Linked DNA regions of Homo sapiens: region 2 is linked to region 1. Evidence: fine-mapped expression QTL. A gene starts in region 1. The other region holds a variant in brackets. All regions are shown on one strand. Distances are from middle to middle.

Evidence for each region. PIP is the estimated chance that this variant, and not a neighbour inherited with it, causes the effect.
Region 2: its variant is the best candidate, but not a certain one, in a credible set for the expression of CLDND1 in esophagus mucosa (GTEx, PIP 0.79).

Annotation. Positions count from the first base shown.
Region 1 is chr3:98,521,171-98,524,094 of GRCh38, reverse strand. It overlaps CLDND1 (claudin domain containing 1), which reads left to right and starts at 1,193. Exons shown (of 5, transcript NM_001040181.2): 1 at 1,193-1,246; 2 at 2,653-2,924. The coding sequence starts at 2,671. CLDND1-AS1 (CLDND1 antisense RNA 1) reads right to left here and starts at 1,525. Exons shown (of 2, transcript NR_198998.1): 1 at 1,262-1,525. RefSeq lists silencers at 947-1,586, 1,637-1,746.
Region 2 is chr3:98,498,977-98,501,900 of GRCh38, reverse strand. No RefSeq gene overlaps it. Among named protein-coding and RNA genes, the nearest start is that of OR5K2, 2.8 kb to the right of the region's middle. The variant A/T (reference allele first, on the strand shown) is at 1,656.

The DNA of each region.
Region 1 (2,924 bases):
TGTGCTGCATATGAATATCAGTTTCACCCACTCAGGTCAAAGAAATGTAAGTACAGATAGAGAAACATATCATGCCTTTAATCTGTCAAAGTGGTAGAAATTTAATATCAACTTGCAGCTCCCATCTTTCTCCTATGCTAAATTACAAGGCATTAGGGGACAGAGTGGGGGTTTGAGAGCCCCTCTGGTCCTTGAGTCAGCTTTCTCTGTCGGTTACTGTTGAGAAATCCACCATTTGCTGGTCCCAGGCCACGTTAATAGTTCCACTCATGTTATTGTTAAGATGTCCCTGCTTCCTGTCCATGAATTTCTGTGTTAAACCTGAGGGTTCAGAATCATTGTTGCCCCTGTGCCACACATCATCTGCAATCTCCAATGCTGTCCATGACCTTATCTGCTTGAGTGATGTTCCCCAAATTTCAGTCTTTTTCCTACTATACCCACAATTTTTTATTCATTTTTTGACATATCTGGTATCCTCAGTATTATTAACTTAATAGTTTTTAAAATAAGTGAAAAGAATTTAAAAGGAACAACATTGCTGCAATAGAAAACTAGTATCACTTGTCATAAAAAGAAGGCAGCTACAAACACATTTTATGAAACCCAAATAATATCATTACATTCTTGATGGATACTGTCTGCCAGGTCACATACTTCTTAGCCTAAACTTATGCAATAAAACCAGAAGGATGCTCTGCTCCAATGGGAGGGATTCTGGGAGAGGGAAATAAAATGGGTCAACGTTTCACAAGTAGAATCCCATTTTTGTTCATTTATACTTAGATCTAGAGGCAGGGTGGTGTGATAGGGAAAGCACAGGCCTAAAAGTCAGATCTAAGTTATACAAGTCACGGTCATTGACTCGAGATGACCGGAAACAGGCCCGCTTTACTTTCTGGACCATTCTCCCTTCCTCCCTAAAATGCAAGAATCCAACAGCCTAGACTTCCCTTCTGCGTACCGGCTTGCCCTGAGGAGCTGAACTACATCTCCCACAATGCGCCGCGCGCGGCGCCAGGAATGCCTATCGCCGCCTCAGACAGCTTTCAGTCTGTCCCTCCTACAACTCCCACAAGGCCCCTCGGCCCCGGGCCGCGGCCCGGCCCGGAGTGGGGGCGGGCGGAGGCGCGGGAGTTATGGAGGGGGCGGGCTCTGCAGGGAAGTGCGTCAGAGGAGGCGCGGGGAGAGTAGGGTGCTGTGGTCTGAGCTAGAGGGTGAAGCTGGCGGAGCAGGAGGATGGGCGGTGAGTGAGCGGGACCTGCGTCGCCGGGCAGGGGTCGCGTCGCGGTTCCATGTTCCCGGCGGTTTGAAGAGGGGCCCCCTTCCCGGGCGTGGTCGGGCTGGGCGGGTTCCGAGCGGCGGATTTGTCCCAGGGCCGAGCCCTCTAGGGCGGGGCCTGGTCGGGTACCGGGGGACCCTGGCCCGGGGCCGAGCACGGCTGCCCCGCCCCAGCCCTGGCCTTCTCCGGCCCCGCCGTGAGGCCCAGGAGGTGGCTGCTGCAGGCGTCCGGCTTGGACGAACCGCCGTTCCCAGTGCTGGGACCCTTTAAGGTCATTTGAGAGCACCAGGATGAAGGGGGGATTTTTAAAAAATCAAAATACAAATCCAACTTTTTGAGTTTTCGTTGTCATTGCTCTTATCTTTCCTGAGTCACTTCCCATTTTCCAAACTCAGCAACCCCAGTTTGCGAGTCTGTTTTCATGAACCTTTGTAAGGTGTTTGGTGCGGTCACGGTGTATACTTGCCGTGTAGTATTTGACTCAGCGCGATCTGCCTTGAGTCATTTTACCGCGGCCATTTACTACTGCCGTTGAGCCCTGTCCACGCCTTGGGAGTGTTGATATGTTGAGAGTTTTCTGTCTGGCTGAGGAGGGATCATTTAGTTTTTGCGGACGTATGTTGCACTGAGGATTTAGGGAGAGAGCAAGATTTCTGTTGAGGAGGTTCAGAAGTATAAGGAATCGGGAGAGTAGATAGGAGTGAAGCATTTGGCAGCGTAAAGAAGCTTGGCTTAGCTTTAATGGATTAGGGAGAGATTGCTATCTAGCATTATTACATGTTATTGTTCTCTTTGCTATTTTATACACCTAGAACAACCTTTCCCTCGGGGTTAACAAACATCTTCAACTCTGTTTTCTGTATGGCTCCTGACTCTTACCTTTGTTTTAGGAGGCTTCCCTCTTCAGAGGAAACTGGGAGAAGCCAATTTCCACTGCTTCTTTTTCCTGTGCCTTTTTAACACTCAAACCCAGAACACTTAATCCTCTGCAGCTCGTGCAAAAATTCAGTCTGTAATTTAAAATGTGTGCACGGTACACTGCTGACCATGGGCATGTCTATTGTTTGTATCTGTAATGTGTATGTCCATTTCAGTGTTGTCTGTTTTAGTATGCAGGTGATAGACTAGAGAACAAGACCTCTGTCTCCGTAGCATCCTGGGTATGTGAGCATTCAATAAGTACTTTTATGAGAATGAGTTTTGTTTTAAGCTTAATTAAAAACATGCTTGCTTTCTAAAAAAAATTCTTAATGGTTATATGTACGAAGGGATGGGGAATTGGGTAAAGGGTGCATTTGGAATAATTCAAAATAATCTTTCTTATTTGTCCGTAAACTCTAACTTATCTTCTTTCTTCAACTTCTAAACAGAGCAGTCTGAATGCCAGAATGGATAACCGTTTTGCTACAGCATTTGTAATTGCTTGTGTGCTTAGCCTCATTTCCACCATCTACATGGCAGCCTCCATTGGCACAGACTTCTGGTATGAATATCGAAGTCCAGTTCAAGAAAATTCCAGTGATTTGAATAAAAGCATCTGGGATGAATTCATTAGTGATGAGGCAGATGAAAAGACTTATAATGATGCACTTTTTCGATACAATGGCACAGTGGGATTGTGGAGACGGTGTATCACCATACC
Region 2 (2,924 bases), 22 kb after region 1:
GTCAATAAGCATATTTAGTAAAATATATTTGCTTAAAATGAATTATACTGATTATTGTTCTACCATATTTCTATCAAGTTCATACCTATATCTCCTGCCCAGTAAAACTGAATAATTTTTTTATAAAGAATGTACAGCTCAACAGTTAACTGTTTACTGTATAAGATTTTCTTTTTAAAATAATGTATTTGGCTTATTTTTTTCTTTTAAGGTTTTCTTAAGGTTTAAAGGAACAATTAATATTTTATCTCTTTTTTTGTTAACTTCGGTACAAAAATGCAGTTGATGACTTGACAAAAGGGCTGCATCTATGGCTTGAAGGTGCAGCCCTTTCATCAAGTCATCAACTGTATTTTTGTACTGTTGAATTTCTCCAACAGTGACAAAGGAGAGCATGCTTCCAGCTGGAGCTGAGTCCAAGCACACAGCCACTCCTGCACACGCATGCGTGCAAACAGGGAAGCCCAAGTAGGAGAAGAGGAAAGAGGTTGTAGGGATTTGGGAAGAACCTTGATTATTCCCTGGAGGAAAAGACAAATCTACTTCCCTGAAATCACCCTCGAATCTACTTCCACCCTCAGAACTTAAAATGAACTGCATCCTTTTTTTCATCTTCTTTTCTTCTCCAGTGAATATGATCTCCAAACCCTTATTTTTTCTTTGAACTGTAAAATTTCCACTCATGGACGATGCAACCAACAGATGCAATCTCTGAGAAGATGAAAATTGGGACCTCTTATTATAAAATTGACCTAGCTGGACTCAGGAAACCAGGGAAGAAGTCAATGCAGGCATTTAAAATGTAAAGTTTTTTCTGGTTAAATCTATTTATTTTTCTTGTAGGTTGAGTATTTCTTCCCAGTTTTTCTGCTCTGGTGTATAACAAACAGGTCAAAATTTCCCATCTTTCCTCCTGATAGTAGTTGAATCCTACCTTGCATACTTAATGCATAGTGAAATGGCATCTAGCAGAAATACACACCCCCAAAACACACCACCATTTCATTAGGTGCCCAAAAAATTCTGTATTTAGCTTATTTATTTATTGTTATTTTTGCTTTTTCTTAACCCACTATATATTGACTGCAAACGAATTAATAAATTATCCCTTCTGGAACTTTTTGGTCTTTTCTTTTTTTTAATGTTTTCACTATAAAAGGTAAGCTGAAACATTGAGAAATTGTTCAAATCAGCATATTTTATAATTCACAACTACAACTTGGTAAATATTTTTACTGTAAGTAAGCACTGAAATAATGAAGTATGATGAGAGGCAGTAGTTTTTAATGCAAAGATGCAAAGTTATAAATTTAAATGTTCAGAGGGGCCAGGGAGGTGACATAAGAATTGTTGCCACTTTTTCAAGAAAAGTCAATTTTTGCTTTTATAAAAATTTTTAATAAAAATTTTAAATAAAAATTCTCCTGATATTTAAATTTCTTAAAATTAATTTTCCAAAGAACACTATGCTGTTCTGCATTGCGTGGGATAAACGATTCTGTGCAATCTCTGGGTGACCTTTTGTGATTTCTTATGTAATAATTGAGAATGTAGTTTTTGTAGTCAGGCAGCCTGGGGTTCAGGTCATGCAGACTCCTGTGGGTCACTGAACAAGTGACTCAACCATACTGTGCTTCATATTCTCACCTGTCACA[A/T]GGGATAATAATTGCAATTCTTTCACAGGATTTATGAGGGTTGGATGAGGTAATGTGTATACACAGCTTAGCACATGGACGCATAGTAAGTATCCAAGTACATTTGGTGATGCTGATGGACGTGCATTAGGCAAAAACTCAACTGATGGGGTTTAAATTTGAAACAGGCAAGGAAATACTGAAATGTCTGAGTATAATTGGAATGAACTAGGTTAGGTTTTCTTGGAGGTTACAAATATACACTATATTTTTATAGTTTTTCATTCATGATTTAGGGAATTATATCTAGAAATATATCTGTTTTCTACTCCCTTTTCTATATAGACTCAGCATGCTGATTTTCCATGTGATGCCAGCCTCTGGTGGCTGGCTAGCTTGAGGCCCACTGCAATCTGACAACTGCCTTCTGGAAATTTAGATGTGACCACAGAGCATCAAGAGAGGAGGTGGAAGGGAGAATTTTTCTGTTACTTGTTATGGGTCCTCCTTGTTCCAGAAGTTAGTAATTAAAATAATGGCAATGTTCTATTATTTAAGAAGATGAAAAGAGTGGTGTCTTGGTCATTAATATGTCTCAGCATCTAGAACAGTGCTTGCACATAGCAGAATCTCAATAAATATATGTAGAGTGAATAATTGGAAAGTATCTCTTTAATGATGTCACATAAGATTATTAGGTTCTATCCATATTAAACGACTTTAAGTTTTGCAATGGTGAAGGAATAAAAGAAAATATTTGAGATAAGCCCTGTCCACAGTCCCACAATCACACTTTTTTACATGTCTGTATATAATATACCCAAAGGTTGTGTCTCCATTGTTTAACCCCTTCCTCACCTCTCAGGAATGGGCACAGAGAAGTTTAGCCTAACTCACTGACAATGAAGGCTCTTCAGATCTACATGAAGTTTGAAATGTTTGTCTAGAACTTTATGATATGGTATCTTTATGCATGTAGGTTTTGGAGTAAATAAAACTTAATGTAACCTATCTTGAAATTTGACATTCTGATTTTAATTATTTAAATGTTTAAATCATTTAACAACAACTTCTATTTGGAAATATAATATTCACTTTTATTGGCACAATCACTTCCTGACTACCTCATTCTAACTACAATAATGTCCCCCACATGCTATTACATTTTCTTCCTCAAAATTCACTTGCCATTTTTGTTGCTCATGGATATAAGTGAGTTCGTTGGTTGACTGTTCACATGATCTTAAACACTTAACTGTAATGCACATGTTGTAAGCTATAGAGTGGGCT